Linked DNA regions of Homo sapiens: all the other regions are linked to region 3. Evidence: fine-mapped expression QTL. A gene starts in region 3. Each other region holds a variant in brackets. All regions are shown on one strand. Distances are from middle to middle. Region 1 has its middle 1.9 kb from the start of STMN4. Region 2 overlaps STMN4 (stathmin 4). Region 3 holds the start of TRIM35 (tripartite motif containing 35). Region 4 overlaps STMN4 (stathmin 4).

Region 1 (2,684 bases), 51 kb after region 3:
CCTGATTCCCACTGAAAAGGCTCAGCTTGATGGCTGAGGGTCCTGGGTTGGTGGCATGTGGCATGAATGATAAGTGTGTTGTTCAGTGATACTCACTGAATGTCAAACAGCACAGTGTTCGTCCTGCCGTCCTTGCAGCCCTGCTGAAAGGATTACACCATAGATTCAGCTCTGGTGTGCTTTGAAAACCCCAAAGGCTGTCAGGGCTCATTCCTCATCCTGGCCACCGCTTGGCCAGGGGCTGGCAGCCTAACTGGAGCCCTCCCCTCTGGATGTGAAGTGGGGGCTTGGAGATGTGTGTCTACATGGGGCCTCCTGGAGAACCACACGGGGTGCTGTGGTGAGATGCCAGCTTGCAGGTCCTGGCAGTGGGGTGCAGGTCAGGGGTTCATGCCAGGGCTTGAGAATCTACTTAATCCCCAGCACAGTCTGCAGGGTGAACATGTGACATCCATGCATTAACTATGATTTTCAAATGCTCATTGATGCTACTGTAGTTTAAAAATAATAACTTCAAAGCATGGGCTGAATTCAAGGCAACTTTTGTCATTATTCGTGTTCTCAGTCAATAGGGGTTTGGTGGTAGAGGGTGAACAAACCCTCCTAAAATAGGGTGAGGTGCCAGGCGTGGTGGTTCATGCCTATAATCCCAGCACTTTGGGAGGCCAAGGCAGGTGGGAGCCCAGGAGTTTGAGACCAGCCTGGGCAACATGGTGAAAACCTGATTCTATAAAAAATTAGCTGGGTGTGGTGGCACATGCCTGTAGTCCCAGCTACTGGGGAGGCTGAGGTGGGAGTATCACTTGAGTCTGGGAGGCAGAGGTTGCAGTAAGCCATGATCACATCACTGCACTCCAGCCTCAATGACAAAGCAAGACTTTGTAAAAAAAAAAAAAAAAAAAAAAGGAGGGAGGAGCAAGGTGATGGAATTATCACACATGCTACAACATGGATGCTCCTTGAAGACATGCCAAGAGAATGAAGCCAGATACAAAAGGACAATACTATTTGATTTCACTGATACGAGGTGCCTAGAATAGGCAAATTCATAGAGACAGAAAGTAGTTTGGGGTTAGCTGGAAAGGAGTGTTATTGCTTACTGGTTACATATGAATATTGGGGAACATGCCAAAGTTCTGGAGATGGAAAGCTGTGATGGCTACACAGCAATGCGTGTGCACTTGAGGCCAGTGAGCTATACACTTCAAAATAGTGAAAATGGTGAGCGTTATGTTGGACATGTTCAGCCTCAATAAAATTACCCCTCCCCGGCTGGGCGTGGTGGCTCATGCCTATAATCCCAGCACTTTGGGAGGCTGAGGCAGGCAGATCACGAGGTCAGGAGTTCAAGTCCAGACTGACCAATATGGTGAAACCCCATCTCTACTAAAAATACAAAAATTA[G/T]CCAGGTGTGGTGGTGCGTGCCTGTAGTTCCAGTGACTCAGGAGGCTGAGGCGGGAGAATCTCTTGAATTCGGGAGGTGGAGGTTGCAGTGAGCCGAGATCACGCCATTGCACTCCACCCTGGGTGACAGAGCGAGACTCTGTCTCAAAAAAAAAAGAAAAAAAATTACCCCTCCCCACCAAGAAGAACACATGAGGCAAGGCTGGACGGTGGAATGTGGGGATGATGGACACATCTTGGGGGGATTTAATCTGGAGAGGTGTTCTGGAGGAGGGGGTCTCGCTCCACAGCTGCCTGGCTCCTCTCCTGCCTCACCCTGCCCTCTCCAGCTCACTGGCTGAGGGCAGCAGCCTGTGAAGGTTATGTTAGTGGCTCCCTCATTCCCTGAGGGAACTACAGAAGCCACCATCGCTGACCCGTCACCCCCCCTCAAGATTCCACCATATGGAAATGTAAACTAGTACAGTCACTATGGAAAACAGTGTGAAAAATTTTTAAAGAACTAAAAGTAAATCTACCATTTGATCCACCAATCCTACTCCTGGGTATCTACCCAGAGAAAAAGAAGTTATTGTACAAAAAAGATACTTGCACATGCATGCTTATAGCAGCATGATTCGCAATTGCAAAAATATAGAACCAGCCCAAATGCCCACCAATTAACAAGTGGATAAAGAAAATGTAATACACACACACACACACACACACACACACACACACACACACACCGTGGAATACTACTCAGCCATAAAAAGCAATGAAATAATGGCATTTGCAGCAACCTGGGTGGAATTGGAGACCATTATTCTAAGTGAAGTAACTCAGGAATGGAAAACCAAACATCATATGTTCTCACTCATAAGTGGGAGCTAAGCTAGGAGGGCGCGAAGGCATAAGAATGATACAAGGGACTTAGGAGACTTGGGGGAAAGAGTGGGAGGAGAGTGAGGGATAAAAGACTACTCACTGGGGACAGCGTACACTGCTCGGGTGATGGTGCACCAAAATCTCAGAAATCACCACTAAAGAACTTATTCATGTAACCAAACACCACCTGTTTCCCAAAAACTTACTGAAAATTTTAAAAAATCCACCATATTTGGGAATCACCAGTGTAATGACCAGTCCATCTTCCTACCTGTGGCTCCCTCTGGAAGGCCCAGGAGGGCTGGATGGGAGGGGCAGTGAGGACCCACTAGTGTCAGCAGAGATGTGGCTGATACCTTTGCAAAGGTGGCCAGAGGGAAGCCTTATTCTCCAGAGACTCCAGTGCAGGGCCC
Region 2 (2,684 bases), 66 kb after region 3:
AGGAATGTCTCTTCTTGAGATCCTTCATTAAGCCCTTCTTTCCAAATAAGCTCATATTCACAGGTTGTAGGAGTTAGGATGAGCATGTATGCATGTAGGGGACATTATTTAACCTACTGTACTGAATGGCCTTGAAAAGGCACTTAGCTTCCCTGAGCCTCGATTTCATTCTCTATAAAATGGGGATAGTAATTCCTGCCTTACGAGGCTATTACGAAAATTAAAGTGAGTTTGTCACATAGCAGCTGCTCAGTAAGCACACATTTTTAACACTGAGAGGTCTCCATTGCAAATCCCTTGATCATGACCATGCATACCTCTGCCCACCTCTACAACATCTCGTTTCTTGCCCTGGTTTTCCTTTTCTGGCTTTCTGACCTTCTCTGTGTTCCTAAAACTCCTAGCCCATTTCCTTCCATGTAGAAAGCACTTACCACATATTTTAAAGTTAACTCATATCCCCAGGCCAGGCTGGCTTTCTGTGAGTCCTCAGGACCATAGAGAAAGCATTAGTGAGTATCTAGTTCTTCCACTGGTTACAATGGAAGAGCTTACAAGTCGAGAGACCTGGAGACTAGACCCAGCTCTGCACCCTTAGAGCTGTGTGACCTTAAGCAAGCGTCTGAACTTCTCCAAACCCCAGGTTCTTCATCTGAAAGCAAAGCTGATGATGCCTGTCTTGTCAGCCTAAGCCAGCTTCATGCAAAGTTAGACTAGGATAATGTGGTGGGTGTCGAGTGCCCCCTGAGCACAGGGTCCTATCATCATTTCTAGCTCGGGCTGGAGGCACATTCCATAACTCCAACTGCCTGCTCCTACTCCATCTGCCTTCTTTCTCAGGCATCCCTCTCTGCCTCCCCTCCACCTATTCAGGCTTCCACTTCTGATCCTTTCCCCAGGTAGAAGTCCAAGGCCACTGCCACTCTGGCAAGGGCTTACTAACTCTGCCAGTGACTTGTCAGTCAGCCTGGCCATGAGCAGAGACTGCGGGATGGGGTGTCATGACCAGGGAAGTCGCATGCAGGCACCAGGCCTGCCTCTCTGTTCAGGGACTCACTGGTGCCGTCAGGACCAGCTTAGTTCTGCAGAGAGAAGACCCA[T/C]TGTGCTGCAATGACAGGGGCCTCTGGCTCCAAAGCACAACAACAAGAACAAGGAGAACAAAGCAGTTTAAGTCCAGCTGGACCTCGGTTCAAATGGGCACTCTAACTTGCTAGCTGCATTGCCCTGAGCAGGCACATAAACCCTCTGAGCCTCAGTTTCCCCATCCGCACATGGCAACAACAGTCCTTACTTGTGGGTCCAGAGGTAATGGCTCTGAAGCAGGCATGTGGCACCTGATAGCTGTCCTGATGCAAAAGACAGGGCAAAGAGACTAACATTTATTCAGTGCTTCCTGTCTGCTGGATGCTATGCATGGGTTTTTCTCATTTAATTTGTACAGCTCTGTGCAGGATTAAGATGGAGAAAGAGACTAGCGAGAGCTGGTAAGAGAGGTGATACTTGTATTTGACCCCACACTGGTCTAGCCCTAAAGCCAGAGCTGAGTTCACTGCCCCATTACCTCCTCCTGCCAGTCTCCAGCCAGCACAGAAAGGCAAGGGGTTTGAAGTGGGTCTCAGAGTCTCTTTGGCTGGCAAGGATGTAGGCAGTGAGCCTGCTGGCTCTCGCCACCCTCCCCTGGCACAGTGACCACAGAGGGTGACCGAGGATCAAATGGTCCTGAGGATGGCCACTCACTGCTGGCTGCTCCTCACTCTCTTTGTAGTAGCCTTCATGGGCTCCCATCACCTCCACCCCTCTGATCCTCCCAGATCTGCTCCTTCCCTGACTCTCCTGTTTTGTCTCCTGCCCCGCCCCCTCCTCTTTCCACTTTCTGATCTAGCGTCAACTAGCTTGACCTGATCCCACGGACACTGAGTGGCGTTCTCACCCCGACCCTTGGCCGTGATGTTCCCTTGCACAATGCCCTCCTGCCAGCTCCTGTCTGATTCTAACTCATCCTTCAAGGCACTGCTCAGGTGCTACCGACACCAGGGACACCTCCCAGGCTCCCTGGCAAATGCTGGGGGTGTGGAGCCCTATTTCTGTGTCCCACAGCAATTCCTCATGCTGATTTCTGGTGGTGTGGAGCCCTATCTCTGTGTCCCACAGCAATTCCTCACGCTGATTTCTGGTGGTGTGCTGGCTGGCCCTGTGATGACGACATGATTCCTTAATGTTTTTCTTTCCTGTGTCCCGGATTGTCTTAAATAGGGTCAAACACAGCTTAGGTCAGTCGTCTTGGGAAAGGGAAGGTGAGAGGCATCTGAAGAGGCCTGTTAACATCCTATGTCCAATTCCCTCTCTTCCCATATCAGAATTGGCCCAAAGACTTCTGGGGCATGTGCGGGGAGAAGTCCAGGACACACAGTTATTTTATGAATGCCTCCCAGCTGATTCTGCAGGAGGATTTGCTTCTCACCCTAACCCTTGAATTGGGCCAGGTTCTTGAGCTATGGAGGGAGACAGATGAGCACCCCTTGATCCATACGTTTTTGGGAAACCCACGCTTGCATGTGCTAGGGGGCTTGAGACTGGAAAGCCAATTATGAAGTATCATTAGTTCATGGAATCTGAGCTTGTTTAGCATCATTGTGGGAGGGAGGTCGGGGTAGGGGACCCCCAGGGAGAGTTGGTGGGGAGAG
Region 3 (2,684 bases):
CAATGCAGAAACATCCTTGAAAAGATAGTTGGAAAAAGGCAGTCAGTGCCTCTGCTCTCTCAAGACATGCAGGAACATGACACATGTGAATTGTCTCCCAATAGAAAAGGAATGAAAGTGCATCGTGTGAAAAGTATTCTGCATCTGGAGGCTGTAAAGTGATCAAACTGAAGCAGGAATGAAGATCTGAAGGAACCATCCAGGCCTACTGTACCTGGCAAGAATTGAGCATGAACTCTAGTTATCTCAGCTAAACTTTGCAGAAGTCCTCAATTTCACTGTTTTAATGGGCACTTGCCCATTAAAACAGTGGTTGTCATGAGCACTTTCCACATTTATTTCACTTTATCCTCACACTTCATGGAAACAGAGCTATTACAGCCATTGTACTCATGAGTAAATGGACTTTGAAACATGATGACCTGTTCACTTTTTCAACCACAGGACAAGAATCAGGTTTTCTCGGAGCTCTTCTGCCGCCACCCCTCTCTTGTTTCTCCTTACCGCGGCGGGCCAGAAGAAGACTGGCCAAAATAAGTAAACGACTAATGCAAGAGTGGCATAGGTCCTCAAAAAGGCGCTGCAAACTTAAGTGGTGATTGCACTCACGGTGCTTTAAGACCCAGCCACTACTTCGGAAGCAGGAAGTTGGCATCTCTGGTTTCTCCCATCCGCGGGCCTGAGGTTCCCGGGGATTGGTTAAGGTAGAGGCTCCTTTTCCCATTTGCAGCCGGAAGTAGGTTTCCAGTAACACGGAAGCCCTACTACGCCGCCTGGGAGACCCTTCCGTGCTACCCCGGCCAGGGACCCGCCCGGACCTGAGGAGGCGGGAACTGCGGGCAGAAGGCCCACCCCGCTCTCCCAAGATTTCCCGCGCACACCGGAAGTGGGTGGGGCTCCTCCGAGCGCCCCCTCCCTCCCCCTCGCCATCCCCCCCGCACGATTGGCCAGCGCCGCTGTCTCTCAGCGTTCCAGGGGAAGGGACTGGGCGATTCCCAGCACTCGGGTCGCGGGCGTTGGCAGCCGGGCGGGTGGGAGGGGCCGGAGCAAAAGTTCCGGGCGCCCGAGCCGGCTGCTCGTGCCATGGAGCGGAGTCCCGACGTGTCCCCCGGGCCTTCCCGCTCCTTCAAGGAGGAGTTGCTCTGCGCCGTCTGCTACGACCCCTTCCGCGACGCAGTCACTCTGCGCTGCGGCCACAACTTCTGCCGCGGGTGCGTGAGCCGCTGCTGGGAGGTGCAGGTGTCGCCCACCTGCCCAGTGTGCAAAGACCGCGCGTCACCCGCCGACCTGCGCACCAACCACACCCTCAACAACCTGGTGGAGAAGCTGCTGCGCGAGGAGGCCGAGGGCGCGCGCTGGACCAGCTACCGCTTCTCGCGTGTCTGCCGCCTGCACCGCGGACAGCTCAGCCTCTTCTGCCTCGAGGACAAGGAGCTGCTGTGCTGCTCCTGCCAGGCCGACCCCCGACACCAGGGGCACCGCGTGCAGCCGGTGAAGGACACTGCCCACGACTTTCGGGTAAGAGCAGCGATTTGCACGAGGCGGCCGAGCCGGGTCTGGAACCCGGAATCCCTTGGCTCTGCGGCTCCCGCCCCTCCTGCCTGCCAGAGCCCAGTGTGCCCGCGTCTCGCTCCCAGCATGCAGGACCCCACCTCTCCGACCCAGGTTCTCAGGGCTGGCTGCTTCTTCAAGGTCGGCCCAGGGGCCCGTGCTGGGAGAAGAGAATGCGAACGGAAAGTGACAGATGAGGTTACATGATGTTCCCAAGACAGCGACACTTGCTTCTGAAGGGCCCAGGCCATGCACCCCTTGTGCCAGCCGGGTGTGGCCCAGGTCCCTTTAAGCGGCACGGATGTGGGTGCAGCCCACGAGCCCTGTAGCTTGGCACACTCAATTTAGAAGTGGAGGAGGAGCCACAGACCTGGCCAGGGGTGTGGAGTCTTAAGATTTCCCCCAAACCAGTCACCTACTTGCCAAGCTGATCCCGCGGTTTGTATTATCTGAGTGAGAGGTCTCTGACCCTGGCTGGCTGGCCTATTCTGGTTTATAAAGCAGCATCTCCATATCTAGAGTTCTAGTGACTATACATAAACCCAGGAGCAACTTACAGGGCAAAACTAACATGGAGAATTCTTTGATATAGGAAGGAAAAATGAATAGAAGATAAGGGTTAGCCTAACTCAGCATTTTCCAAAACGTTTAATCTTAGCCCATAGGAAGCAATGCATTTTCCCTTGTGACCCAGAACATATGTATCAGTTGAAACAAAAGTTTTCTGAACATGTCCATGGCACTCTGATATTTTCTGTTACTTCCCTTTGTTTTTTTTTTTTTTTGAGACCTCTATCGCCCAGGTTAGAGTGCAGTGGCGTGCTCTTAGCTCACTGCAACCTCCGCCTCCTGGGTTCAAGCGATTCTGGTGCCTCAGCCTCCCGAGTAGCTGAGATTACAGGCATGTACCAACACGCCTGGCTAATTTTTTTTTTTTTTTAATTTCTAGTAGAGGCAGGGTTTCACCATGTTGGCCAGGCTGGTCTGGAACTCCTGGCCTCAAGTGATCTGCCCTCCTCTGCCTCCCAAACTACTGGGATTACAGGCGTGAGCCACTCCGCCTGGCCTCTGTTACTTTTAAAAATTACCCAGAATGTGAAACATTGAATTTATTTCATCACCTGCTAATGCAT
Region 4 (2,684 bases), 74 kb after region 3:
AGGGTGTCTGCAGGGACAGATTCGTAGTTTATAGTTTATCCTGAAAACCTGGGGGCCTCCGTGGGTCTACTTCAGGCTGATTCTGTCATCTGGATGTGACAGTGCCAGGCTCTGGGAGGGACAACATTGGTTGAGTGCTTGCCATGTGTAAGGCACCATAGTAGAAAAGATAATGTGGTCCCTACCCACAGGAAAGTCACCGTCTAATAGAGAACTGTCTAATAGAGAATCTGCACAGTGAGCAGGTGAACACTAAACATCACAACTTGAGGGGTGAAAGACCACCTGTCTATGCCCTTCTCTTTAAAGATCAGAGAACTGAGGCCTGGTTGGAGAAGTGAGCCAGCCAAGATCCTCCTGCAGATGGGCCTTGGAAGGCAGATGCTATCTTTTGGCTGCACTACCCTGTGAAATAAAAGAAGGTTCTCTTATAATAGGTGTAAGAAAGTCCACTTTTTGGAGTTGGGCAACATTTTCAAAATTCTTCTGTCGATTTGCACTTTAAGAGTCCACACCTGGGCACGGTGGCTCACATCTGTAATCCCAGCACGTTGGGAGACAGAGGTGGGAGGGTCATTTGAGGCCAGGAGTTAGAGGACAGCCTGGGCAACATAGCAAGATCCCATCTCTATTTTTGTTTAAATAATAACAAAGGAAAATCAAAGAATCCTCATCTTTCACCAAGAGGGTTAAGGCAATTCTCACAAAGGAGATGGATGAGAACTAGAAGCAGCAGGCAGGTGCATGTGATTTGTAGGGGATGCTTGTAGTGAGGCCTGTCTGTTCTGCCTGCTCCTCTGGCACAAATTACCCCCAGCAGCTCCTTATATTAAGTCAAGCCATATGATCTAATCCAAACCACAGAATGGCCAGGTGAGGGAGGGGGAGGCTGCGTGGCCCATGGTCACTGTAAGGTGGGCCCCTGCTGCAGTTTGACACCCACAGGACCCTGAGCTCCCTGGGGCAGCA[C/A]CAGTAGGCTTGCCCCCTGCCTCCTGCCAGCCTCACCTGCCACCTTCTGCCCCTCTCGGGATGCCTTTGCAGACAGAGCTCTTCGCTGCCTGTGGTGGCCACTCTTTGCTTTTGGTTCTCTTGCCCCTTGGCCTCCCTTTTTGTCCCCGGGCAGCCTTGTGTGACCTGCCCTTTTCCCTCCCTTCCTTTCCAGGACAAGCACGCCGAGGAGGTGCGGAAAAACAAGGAGCTGAAGGAAGAGGCCTCCAGGTAAAGCCTAGAGGCCAAAGAACTTTCCAGGTCAGCCGGACAGCTCCAGCAGCTCCACGTTCCAGGCAGCCTCGCCCGCCGGCTGCGCTCCCAGCACTGGGGTTTGGGGGGAGGGGGGTGGCCAAGGGGCGTTTCCTCTGCTTTTGGTGTTTGTACATGTTAAGAATTGACCAGTGAAGCCATCCTATTTGTTTCCGGGGAACAATGACGGGGTGGGAGAGGGGAGAGGAGAGAGTTTGGGAAAGGGAGATGGAGAAGAACTCAAGGACATTGCAACCCTGCCCGGCGCAGATCTGATTTTCACATCTCTACCTGGACATTGAGCCTCCAGGCACCATGTTGAGGAGAGATGAAAACCAGGGCGGTAGAACTTCAGGGTGAAGGACAGAGTCCTGGGTGGGGCAGCGGCTGCAGGGCGCACCAGAGAACCCAGCCAGAGGGGTTGTGAGTACCAGTGGTGTTGCTTCCACCCTGCAGCAGGTGGGATGAGGTCTGTGTGTGTGTGTGAACCATCATTTTTTGATCATCATGACCAATGAAACATTGACTCCAAGTGTCCAGTTCTTTATTTCCCAAATGTGTCCTTTGGGTAATTGTTAAAAAGTTCTCGAAACCTGGCTTTCATCCATCTGATGGCAGATGCCCCTTTGCTTCCTTAATTCTGCCATTCAAGCATCTGGAGCCTGGGTGAGGTGGGTTGAATCAGGCCAGCCTTTGGCATAATTGAAAGGTTTTCTCTTCTGTTTTTTAAAATCCCCTCTGTGGGCTAATCTTTATTGGATAGCATGCACTAAATTGATGAGAAAAGAAACTCAATCTTCCTTTCAATGAACTGACATCCTAATATGGTCCCCAAGATGCACTGTAAGAAGGAATTTGTCTTAGTCACAACCGTTCAGACTGCTGTAACAAAATACCTTAGACTAAGTAATTGATAACAGAAATTGATTGCTCACAGTTTTGGAGGCTGGGAAGTCCAATATCAAGGTGCCAGCAGATTCAGTGTCTGGTGAGGGCTTGCCATCTGCTTCAAAGATGATGCCTTTTTGCTGCATCCTCACATGGCAGAAGGGAAGGGCAAAAGGGCTTCCTTGAGCCTTTTCTTTAAGGCACTAATCCCATTCATGAAGGTGGAGTCCTCATGATCTCACCTCTTAAGGCCCTATCTCTTAATTCTGTAGTGTCGGGATTAGGATTCAACCTGTATATTGGGGGAGACAGCAACATTCACACCATAGCAGAAGTCCTCCATGCTTTGGGGGTTTGAGATTCTAGGTAGATTAGAAAATACGAGCAAGGAAATAAAGTGTTTGCTAGTAGAAGGCAAAGGAGGCATCCAGACCCAGCAGTCTTGGTCTCCAGGACACTGAACCATGGCTGGAAAAGAAGCTCTCCTCCTCCCTTCCCCTGCAAACATGAGTGCAGGGGCTGCCTGTGTTAACCGGGTCCCAGGACCTCTTCCCACT

The links.
Region 1: its variant is fine-mapped to the expression of TRIM35 in hypothalamus (GTEx, PIP above 0.99).
Region 2: its variant is fine-mapped to the expression of TRIM35 in spinal cord (GTEx, PIP above 0.99).
Region 4: its variant is fine-mapped to the expression of TRIM35 in whole blood (INTERVAL, PIP 0.99).

What each region holds. Positions count from the first base shown.
Region 1 is chr8:27,258,931-27,261,614 of GRCh38, reverse strand. No RefSeq gene overlaps it. Among named protein-coding and RNA genes, the nearest start is that of STMN4, 1.9 kb to the right of the region's middle. The variant G/T (reference allele first, on the strand shown) is at 1,405.
Region 2 is chr8:27,243,924-27,246,607 of GRCh38, reverse strand. All of the region lies in intron 1 of STMN4 (stathmin 4), which reads left to right. Among named protein-coding and RNA genes, the nearest start is that of STMN4, 13 kb to the left of the region's middle. The variant T/C (reference allele first, on the strand shown) is at 1,101.
Region 3 is chr8:27,309,635-27,312,318 of GRCh38, reverse strand. It overlaps TRIM35 (tripartite motif containing 35), which reads left to right and starts at 1,047. Exons shown (of 6, transcript NM_171982.5): 1 at 1,047-1,518. The coding sequence starts at 1,084. It also overlaps a transcript of PTK2B not described here. RefSeq lists a silencer at 829-1,038 and enhancers at 1,189-1,338, 1,349-1,568, 1,969-2,078.
Region 4 is chr8:27,235,384-27,238,067 of GRCh38, reverse strand. It overlaps STMN4 (stathmin 4), which reads left to right. Exons shown (of 7, transcript NM_030795.4): 7 at 1,163-2,684. The coding sequence ends at 1,222. Among named protein-coding and RNA genes, the nearest start is that of STMN4, 22 kb to the left of the region's middle. RefSeq lists enhancers at 606-1,106, 1,107-1,607. The variant C/A (reference allele first, on the strand shown) is at 970.